2 separate regions of the Homo sapiens genome follow, and region 2 is linked to region 1. The links come from fine-mapping of genetic effects on gene expression. A gene starts in region 1. The other region holds a variant in brackets. All regions are shown on one strand. Distances are from middle to middle.

Region 1 (5,322 bases):
GCCGCCGGCTTCCGCGCGGCATTGTGGGGCTTGTAGTTCTTGTGCCGCAGGGCTTTAAAGGAAACGCCCACGTTTCTTCCGACCAGGGATTTCCGACCCGAGAACCTTACCTCAAAGGCCGGGAGGCCTTTGAGCACCTCCAGCTAGGGCTGCTGATAAAAATGTAGAAAGCACAGTAAAATTTGAATTTCAGATTCACAACAAATCTAGTTATAAGTATGTTCCCAAATATTGCACGGGACATGCTAATACGGAAAAATTACTCGCTAGTCTGAAATTCAAATTTAATTGAGCGACCTGTGTGTCTGCGTGTGTGTACACATGCATATATATATATTTATATTTATATGTAAATGTATGTTTACATGTAAATATATGTTTACCTACAAATATATCTTTAATAAGTAATACGGTGTCTGTCGCACATATATTATATCGTGTATGTAATGTATAAGTATTTATTTCGTTTGCTTGGGGTTTTGTTTGCTTTTGCTGAGTCCGACCCCTCTACCTGCCGCCTGGCCCTTGCCTCACGCTCCAGTGCCACTGAGATCAAGGAGAGAACGAATTTGCCGCTGACTGGGCAGAGCGAGCGCGTGGATCGCGGCCACCGCCCGTTCATCACCCGCGCGCATCTGGGCTGGCACCGGGCGAAGAATCGTGCGGGTCTGGGACCTGGGGGCCCAGAGGGAGCGAGCTCCTGCGCGGGCGCTCGGTCCGCAGGTTTCGCAGGCTCAGGGGCGTGCCTCGTTCTCACCCCCACTCCGGACCCCGGTCCTCTTCCCTAGACAGCGGCCCCCTCCACCCCTGGCTCCCGCAGGCCGCTAGTAGTCCGCGCCAGGCCCCGCCGGCGCCTCTAGGGCCCCCCAGATCGCGCAGACCCTGACATCCCCGCCTGGCCCTGGGTTCTGGGAGCTGAGAGCCGGCCAGGGTCCTGCTCGTACCTCCGGGCGCCCAGCCTCGGGTCTGCTCCCCGCGGACGCCCCAACCTCCCCGGCCGAATGGATGGTGGTGCGCGCGCGTCCTACTCCGGCGGTGCCGGCCTTTTCTGTTGCCAAAACTAGACCCAAACCTCTGCATGGGATTCGTCTTTGGGTCCCCACCCCGTGCGCCCAGCAAACAGTGGGTGAGCCATGAAGATGTGCGAGTCAGCCGGACCCTCCCCGTCAGGCGCGGACCCGCTGCGGCCAGAGAACCCAGTCTGCGCCAGCCCGGCTCGCTCGCGAAGCCACGGGCTTCACTGACGCGACTTTCCAAGACGTGGGGGTCACCATGGGCAGAGGACATCGGTTCGGAGCCAGATCACGGGCCCCATAAGCATCAGACCATAAGCAGCGCCGCCACTGAGAGCCGCTCGGAACTCGCCCAGCATGTCGGGTCCCCTAGCCAGGGCCTGGTGTACGTGGTCGAGGGCCCTGGAAGCCCCGATGGCCTAGGAGGAGCAGGCGGGCGGGGCGGCGGGTGTCGCTGGCCGGTAGAGAGCTTCGGCCTGACCTAGCGCAGGTCTGGTGCGCGCAGAGAACAACTCCAAGCGCACCGACGCCCGCGAGCTCCTTCCAAACACCGAACGGGATCCAGAGCCCGAGCCCACAGGCGGCGGCCGGGGGAGGGAGCAGGGTGCTGGCCGCCGCCCGGGAGTGTTCGCGTCCTGGGTGACCCCTGGAAGGACGTGGGGCCCAAACTCCGGCTGGGGTTGGGAGAGCAGCCCCCAGAGGCTCTCCGCGGGATCCTCTGCCGGGCGGGACCGTGGCTCCACAGGAGAAGTGGGTGGCAAGCCCTGCTTGGCGGAAAGCAGCCGTTCCCCTCCTCCTGGGCCTGGGGCGGCGCCCCTCACCCCTGTTCCCCGCCCCTCACCCCTGTTCCCCGCCGGCCACATCCCCTGCCCCTTGGATTCCAAGCGCCCCGCGCGCCGAGGAGCCCAGCGCTAGTGGCGGCGGCCAGGAGAGACCCGGGTGTCAGGAAAGATGGGCCGTCTGGGGGACAGCAGGGAGTCCGGGGGAAACGCAGGCGTCGGGCACAGAGTCGGCACCGGCGTCCCCAGCTCTGCCGAAGATCGCGGTCGGGTCTGGCCCGCGGGAGGGGCCCTGGCGCCGGACCTGCTTCGGCCCTGCGTGGGCGGCCTCGCCGGGCTCTGCAGGAGCGACGCGCGCCAAAAGGCGGCGGGAAGGAGGCGGGGCAGAGCGCGCCCGGGACCCCGACTTGGACGCGGCCAGCTGGAGAGGCGGAGCGCCGGGAGGAGACCTTGGCCCCGCCGCGACTCGGTGGCCCGCGCTGCCTTCCCGCGCGCCGGGCTAAAAAGGCGCTAACGCCCGCGGCCGCCTACTCCCCGCGGCGCCTCCCCTCCCCGCGCCCATATAACCCGCCTAGGGGCCGGGCAGCCCGCCCTGCCTCCCCGCCCGCGCACCCGCCCGGAGGCTCGCGCGCCCGCGAAGGGGACGCAGCGAAACCGGGGCCCGCGCCAGGCCAGCCGGGACGGACGCCGATGCCCGGGGCTGCGACGGCTGCAGGTAGGAGGCCCAGGGCCGGGGGGCGGTTCGGCTCCGCGGGCGGGGGCTGGAGCGCAGCGCTGGGCAGGCACCTGGGCTCGCAGCTCCGAAGCTGGGAGGTGAGGGGAGAGCGATCGGGGACGAGCTGGGACAAGGCGACACAGGGGCTCCCTCGGAGTTGGATCGGCCCCTGGGACTTGGCGCTCGCGAGAGGCTGGAGCGGCCAGAGTCTAGCCTGCGAGGAGACGCGGGTCCTGCCCTCAGCGCCGGCCGCCTTTGGCGCCAAAGACAGCCCCGCAGGGGTTCCGGGAGGGCCCTCCTCCTGCTGTCCCCTCTCCACCCCGGGCTCCGAGGGCCGTTGGGAGGGTAACCCCGGGAAGAGGCCGGGGTGCGGGGCGCGGGTGCAGGTGGAAATCGCCAGCAAGCTCCTCCCCGCCCGCGCGCTCCCTCCGACCTGCAGGGCTGTGCCAATCCCGAGGCCTCAGCTTCCCTGAGGAGCCAGGGCCAGGCCCCCCTCTGGACAGGGAGAAGGATCTGGGCGGGGGCCTTGACCCATGGAGTTGGTTACTAAGCGGTTTCGATGGTTTCCCGAGGGACAGCTCCCTGTGGCTCTGAGTTTGTCTGTCGAGGGCTCCTGGCCTGTCTCCGGAGCGGTCCCAGGTAGAGAAAGCCCGTGAAGAAATGGCCCGGGCCGGCCTGGAGGGAGACACCTCACGCCCCCTTAGCTCCTGGGCCGCCTCCTCCTGCAGCCCCTGCCTTTCCCGGGGCTTGGACTTGGGGAGCGATGATTACCTTTGCTCAGCTTGTATTTTGGCCTGGACGCTAGGAGATAAGCCCATGTAGTATGCACACGTCTGCTACATAAACAGGGGACAGATAGACGATCTTCAACCAGCAAGGGTGCAGGGAAAAGCAATGCACCCCAAACTTCTGACCAGAGGTCATTTGCTTCCAAAGATGCTGCCATCTGTTTATTCACTGTCTGGACATTTGGAAATGGCTCAGGCTCATTAACACAATGCTTTGGTTTTTGTTGTTTTGTTTTTTGTTGCTGTCATTGCTGTTTATTTGTTCAGCCTTAGCTCTGGGGGAGGAGTAAACAAAGCGCGTGGCCTCTGGCACTTACTGAGCGCTGAGCCACCCCTCTTTGGATTTATTCGGGGAAAGATTAAAAAGCATTTCATTAAGAACAGGACACGGTGTTTGAAATGTTGCCATATATGAATGTATGCATTACGTATGTAGTTTTTAAAATAAGATAAAAAGTTGGCTGGGCACGGTAGCTCACGCCTGTCATCCCTCACAGCCTTTGGGAGGCCAAGGTGGGTGGATCACCTGAGGTCAGGAGTTCGAGACCAGCCTGGCCATCATGGTGAAACCCAGTCTCTACTTGAAATACAAAAATTAGCTGGGCATGGTGGCAGGCACCTGTACTCCCAGCTACTCGGGAGGCTGAGGCACAAGAATTGCTTGAACCTGGGATGGAGAGGTTGCAGCGAGCTGATATCATGCCACTGCACTCCAGCCTGGGCAACAGAGCAAGACTCTGTCTCAAAAAATAAGATGAAATAAGATAAAAGTTGGTGTCAGAGGCTGCAGTGTGGCAGCTGCCTATTGTCAATCAGAGGTAGCCTGGGGTGAACGGAAGGCGGACCTGAGCGGGGCTTGTCTATGCGCGGCGGCCACCAGAGAATGGCTCGGGATGTGAGCCCTGCCTTGCAGTCCTTCTCGTGAAAGCTACAGCGAACAGTAGCTGTCTCCAAATCCCGAAGGCCAGTCGCATGGAGAAGCTGGTCTGGCACAGTGGTTAATGGGGTAGTATGGAAGTCAGAATGCTGGGGTTCAAATCTCCTCTTCCCCATTTACTCCAGCAAGTCACTTAACCACTTGGAGCCTCAGGTTACCCATCTGCAGAGTCGGGTAATAGTAGTTCCTGCCTCAGAGGCTTGGAGAACAGTCAGTGAGGTGCCGTCCGAAGGGCTTGGGAGAGTGCCTGGCACCCACTCAGTGTCCTCACACATGATGGCTTCGGGTCCCAGGTGCTGTTCCAGAGCTGGGAGAGCCAGGAGCCCTGGGGAGAGACCCGGCTCCTTAGTATCTGGTAGGTATCTCCAGGGCAGGAGGGATGGCAGTGAGGCAGGCATCTGCCCAAGGCGTGGGTGGAAGCTGATGGCATCTGTCAGAAGTATGCACTGGGGCAAGGATGCCTGGTTTAGTATTTATTTATAGGGCATGCCCCACCCAGGTCCAAGAATGGATTGATAACACTGAGCACGTGTGAAAGGCACGGCTAAAGTGGAGAGAAGAGAAGAGGCTGAGGGCCGAGAGAGGAGCCGCACACCCACTCCAGAACCCGGACGAGGCCCTGCCCTTGCCCAGCGGCGGTATTAACCCTGAGATTCCGAGCACACCAAAGTGACATCGCGTACACGGTGAACCCTGTGTTTGCAAAAAGTCAGAAAAAGTCTTCAAAACATCCTTTAAGGCCAGGCGCCGTGGCCCACGCCTGTAATCTCAGCCCTTTGGGAGGCCGAGGTGGGTGGATCACTTGAGATCAGGAGTTCAAGACCAGCCTGGGCAAAATGGTGAAATCTTGTCCCCACCAAAAATACAAAAATTAGCCGGGGGTGGTGTCTGGTGCCTGTAGTCTCAGCTACTCAGGAGGCTGAGGCAGGAGAATCGCTTGAACTTGGGAGGCAGAGGTTGCAGTGAGCCGAGATCACCCCACTGCACTCCAGCCCGGGCAACAGAGCGAGACTCTGTCTCAAAAAAACACGCAAAAAATACTTTTGGTGTGTGTTTCATGTAACGAGCTGCCATTTTGCGGCTTGCCTTT
Region 2 (5,325 bases), 84 kb after region 1:
CACAGCCCCCATCCCCAGATCAGGACTCCATCTTGCTAAGTGGCATCACCGTCACCAGCCTCCCCTTATTTAAAAGCAGCGACTGGTGTTGCCGCAGGTACCTGGTCTACGAAGACGCAGGCATCCCTCTCCCACCGTCCACCTCCCCGGGGGCCGCTGACAGCACAGTCGCCTGGGTGCACGCTTGTGGGGGCAGCAGGAACGGGGCTGTCGGCTCTCAGGGGATCTGGCTGCAGCCAGGGCGAGGGCCTGGCCCTTCCTTCCAGCTCCTTCCGGCTCCTTCCAGCTGAAGGGCAGGAAGCTCTGGCCGCTTAGCTTCTAGGGTTCCATCTCCCTAGAAAGGTGCCCACGCCCAGGGCATCAGTCAGTAGCGGCAGCAGCAGCAGACTCGGGGCTTTCCCAGGGTGGCGCAGCCACCCCAGCTGCATGTCACCTCAGCTCTCCATCTTATTGCCATTTTGTAGATGAGGAAGCTGAGACCAGAAAGGCTAAGACCCATGCCCCAGGCACCACACCCATCTCTTGGGGGCTGGGCACCTGCTACCCGAGGCCACCTCCTGAAGCCCCCACTCTTCCCCCATGTTCCACTTCAGGAGCCGCGGGGGCCCATCCTGACACCCGGGGTTCCTCAGCCCAGCGCAGATGTGCTTCAGTTCCAGAGGGCTTGTTGATTTGTTTCTTAGGTACGTTACCTGTCCACCCTGAGTCCAGTGAGGCTGTCCCAAGAGCCCCTGTAGTGTGCTCCTGGGAAGGGCTGGGGGGGCTGGGGGGGCTGGGAGAGGCCCAGGGGCAGCTGTCACTGGAACCCCAGCCAGATGTCCAAGGAAGCCGGCCAGAACACGGAGCAGCCAGATGGCCCCAGCTGCACCTGTCTAGGGAGCCCATGCAGCCTCCTTGCACTGGAGAAGCAGCTGTGAAAGTAGACAGAGTTGAGACTTCGCCGTGGTCAGGAGAAAATGCAAATTCCCAGGAACAAGAATCCTTTAAGTGATATGTTTTTATAAAACTAAACAAATCAACAAATAAATCTTGAAGGCGGATGGTTTTCCCAGCAGTGCAGGGGTTGGAGGGAGGCTGCTGGCACTCCTGGGGCCAAGGGGGACAGGCAGTGGTCCTGAGTCTGCTCAGAGAGGCAAGGCAGAAGGAGCTCGCCAGGCAGGTCAGCTCACATCTGTCCAAGTCGCTCTGGTCAGAAACAGCGACTCTCCCCCATTCCCCCAGCGTTCCCACCAGGCCTGGGCTGCTGGGAAGCCCTTGCTGTACCCAGGAGCCCGACCCGCAGTATCCTGGCACAGAGCCACTTGTCACTCAGAACAGTCAGTGTCTCCAACGCACAAACATCCACTCCTCTGTTACCAGTTAAAGCACTTTAATGCTTTAAGGTGAAAACGAAATCCCATCCGTGTTTTTCGTGTAAGATCGTGCTTCTCCGAGCAGTATTAATGGACGCCCTCCAATGACATAACAACTGTTTTTGGTAATGTAATCTTGGGAAAATGTGTTATTTTTTTAGCTGTGTTTCAGTGGGGATTTTTGTTTTTGTAACATAATAAAGTGTATGTTCCAATGACCGGTTCTCATGACTCAACCTAAATCTCCAAAGGGCTCAGACAAACAGGGCGGCTCCTCACAGGCAGGAAGCCCGTGGCCTCTGTGGCCGGCCCTGGCACCCCACTTGAGTTTCTCTGTGTCGTGAGTCTGATGGGTCCCTGGGGTGTCCCTCTGCCCTGTGCCTCGGAGGACCTGCGGGCCAAGCCGAGTAGCCTCATGGGACTGACCGGGCCTCTCAGGCCTCCTGAAGTACAGGCCCATGAGCCCTCATCCAAGCCCTGTGGGGCCCAGGCCTTCTGGACTTTAGCTAGGCCAAGCAGGGTCTCAGGGCGTCACAAACACCGACACAGAACGCACTCCCGTTTCTCAGCAAAACCTAAGAAAACAAAAGGCAGCAGAGAGCCTCATGTTGGCTCAAGCCAGGCTGAGACCAACGGGCTTCATTTCAGTTCTCTTGGTTCTCAGGTTTCTTGGTTTCAGAGTTGTGAACAGGGACTAGGGACTTGTCACAGCAAAAACAAGGCTCTAGAAATCTGTTCAACCTTGAAGGAGGCCTCAGTCTTTTTAGAAATTGGCCTAAAACAAAGATAGAAAGGACCAAGGCAAGAGGGGGAGATGCCGCCAGGAAGCTCCGCCGAGTTCCCCCACAGGTGAGGTGCCATGCCAAGCCCTGGCCCCA[T/C]CTTCCTGGCTAGCGCTCACGCCGTCACACCAGAGCCCGCCCACCCCTTTCCCTAGGCTCCTACCTGTCCCCACGTCCACCAAGGAGGGCTGGGCGGTGGTGGGCCCACCCCCTCATAGCCGCAGGACTCTGGATCATGAAGGTGTTGAGGCCTCAAACTAGACAGGAAGTGGAGGGATTCTGGATGTTCCCTCGGCAAGAGGGTGCCACATAGAACGTAGAAACGGGGACTCTAAAACGCCCTTTCAGGAATGAACACAGAAATGTGAGTGCTTTCAGCACAAGGGTGAGTTTGAATATCTTTGTTTAAAAGGTTAGTTATTTTTTTTAAGTATAGCGTGAGAAATACAGGCCATTATTTTCAAATATATAAAAACATCTCCAGTAAGTTCCACACAGAATTTTGGAAAGCTAAGCTGGACTCAGAGCAGGTCTGCTGCTCCCCAAGGCACTACCCTTCGAAGGAAGGTTTCCACCCGCCCCCGGCTGCAAAATGGAAAGGAGAAAGCCCGTTTCCAAAAGGTCTCCACGCCCCTTTGGGTGGAAAACAGCCACTGTTCATTCCCGCGTTCACATCCAAAGAGGAAGCCTAGATTCAGGTGACAAGAACAGAATATGGGCTTTTCATACCACACACATATATTTCCTATTTCTCAGGAATGGTGCTGTGTCATTACTATGCACAAAATCGGATTCTTCAAGAAAATTGTTTTTTAGGCCGAGCATGGTGGCTCACGCCTGTAATCCCAGCACTTTGGGAGGCCATGGCAGGTGGATCACGAGGTCAGTAGTTCGAGACCAGCCTGGCCAACATGGTGAAATCCCATCTCTACTAAAAATACAAAAATTAGCCGAGCGTGGTGGCACACGCGTGTAATCCCAGCTACTCAGAAGGCTGAGGCAGAAGAATCGCTTGAACCTGGGAGACGGAGGTTGCAGTGAGCCGAGATCGCACCATTGCACTCCAGCCTGGGTGACAGGGCAAGACTCCATCTCAAAACAAACAAAAAAAAATGTTTTTAAATACTGGTGTAATTACCCCAAAAAAGGCCTAAGGAGGCCTGCAGCCCGCCTCATGCATGCGACATTTAGCCTTAACAGCTTCACCAGCCCTCGGCCCTGTTTGCCACAGAAAAGCTGAAACCGCAGGTTTCTGAGTCAATTTACACCGCCCAATCCCTGACCTGCCCTCTTCCTGAGAGAGCCAACCAGAGGCCTCCAAGGCCCTGCCAAGGGAACTCTGACCGGAAGAGCATCTCTGAGGCCTGCGCACAACACAAAACACCTAAGCAAGCCCAACTTGTGTCCTTGGTCTGAAGTCCCATCCTGAAAAGCCTGGTTAAACCAGAAATGAAACATACATGGTTTCCCAATGCTTCCCCTTCTGAGTCTCCAGTGAGGACAAGATTGCCATGAGGTTTTGTCTCCCTCTCCCAGTAACAGTAACAAGTGAAACAGGCAACTGGATATCAGGCAGGATCTTGGCTCCAGCCTCGAGTTGGTTCACGGAGCTTCTGTCTTCACCACGGAGGCCTCTGCCGATTCGCAGGGCAGGTCCACAGCTGACCGGTTTCACCACGACTGCTCCACGGCCACGGTCACCCGGAAGGCCCTGAGGAACTGCTCTTTGGTGATTTCAGGAGGTTATTTCCCTGCACATTTGCACAGATTCAGGACAAAACCCAACACTGCGGAGCCAGACAGTCTTCCTCTTGTTGGGGCATGTGAAGGGGCCACTGGCCTCTGGGTGGGACACTGATCCTAGAGAGGCCCACCTGCCCCTCTTGGACAAGCCCCACCCAGGTCCAGGAATTCTGCTCAACCTCTCTGGTTCCCAGTCACCCCCAGGACTGACAGAGGGTAGAAAGTGTCCTATCTTCCAGGATACATGGTATCCACTAGATCTCAGGAGTTCAGAAGTAGTTATTTTATAAACTCAGAGTTTAAGAAGATTTCTCAGGACGTGTCAGGCAACATGGTACACGCACAGAACCCCAAAGGAGCATCTCTCAGAATCTCCCTCAAGTACACGCAACGTAAATGATCACTGAGATGGACAATTTCAAATCTGAACCCGGTATCTGGAATGCAATTTTCCACCTGAAATTGGCATATCATCTGCACTGACTGCAGCCTGGAAGGCATCTACCCATTGAGCATCAGGACATCCCAGGTTCCTCCTGAAAACGTCACCCACCTTTAAGGGTTCTGACAAAGTGTCTGAAGAGCTCTCGATAGGAGTCCTGGTAGCGGCTAGCCTGGGTCTGGGAGCGAAGGGACAGGGACATGCCCCGCCCGGTGATGCCCAAGGAATTCTGATTCTCCATCTGCAGCACGCCTTGGGACCCACACACCCAGCTAACGACCTCTATCTAACCTGCGGAATCAACCCGGCTGACGACCTCTATCTAACCCGTACAATCAACCCAGCTGATGACCTCTATCTAACCCATACAATCAACCCAGCTGATGACCTCTATCTAACCCACACAATCAACCCAGCTGATGACCTCTATCTAACCCACACAATCAACCCAGCTGATGACCTCTATCTAACCCACACAATCAACCCAGCTGATGACCTCTATCTAACCCACACAATCAACCCAGCTGATGATCTCTATCTAACCCACACAATCAACCCAGCTGATGACCTCTATCTAACCCGCAGAATCAACCCAGCTGATGACCTCTGTCTAACCCACACAATCAACCCGGCTGACGACCTCTATCTAACCCACATAGTCAACCCAGCTGATGACCTCTATCTAACCTGCAGAATCAACCCAGCTGATGATCTCTATCTAACCCGCACAATCAACCCGGCTGATGACCTCTATCTAACCCGCACAATCAACCCGGCTGATGATCTCTAACCCGCACAATCAACCCAGCTGATGACCTCTATCTAACCTGTAGAATCAACCCGGCTGATGACCTCTATCTAACCCGCACAATCAACCCAGCTGACGACCTCTATCTAACCCACACAATCAACCCAGCTGATGATCTCTATCTAACCCACACAATCAACCCAGCTGATGACCTCTATCTAACCCGCACAATCAACCCGGCTGATGATCTCTATCTAACCC

Alleles and levels. Alleles are on the strand shown, and positions count from the first base shown. SD is a standard deviation of normalised expression in the study named.
In carriers of allele C in region 2, the expression in testis of the gene that starts at base 2,382 in region 1 tends to be higher than with T alone (small effect, 0.33 SD a copy in GTEx).

What was found. PIP is the estimated chance that this variant, and not a neighbour inherited with it, causes the effect. A credible set is the group of variants that fine-mapping cannot tell apart.
Region 2: its variant is the best candidate, but not a certain one, in a credible set for the expression of TP73 in testis (GTEx, PIP 0.72).

Annotation. Positions count from the first base shown.
Region 1 is chr1:3,650,135-3,655,456 of GRCh38, forward strand. It overlaps TP73 (tumor protein p73), which reads left to right and starts at 2,382. Exons shown (of 14, transcript NM_005427.4): 1 at 2,382-2,507. RefSeq lists an enhancer at 190-1,033 and a silencer at 1,993-2,942.
Region 2 is chr1:3,734,632-3,739,956 of GRCh38, forward strand. It overlaps TP73 (tumor protein p73), which reads left to right. Exons shown (of 14, transcript NM_005427.4): 14 at 1-1,570. It also overlaps the pseudogene GFOD3P. Among named protein-coding and RNA genes, the nearest start is that of CCDC27, 15 kb to the right of the region's middle. The variant T/C (reference allele first, on the strand shown) is at 2,231.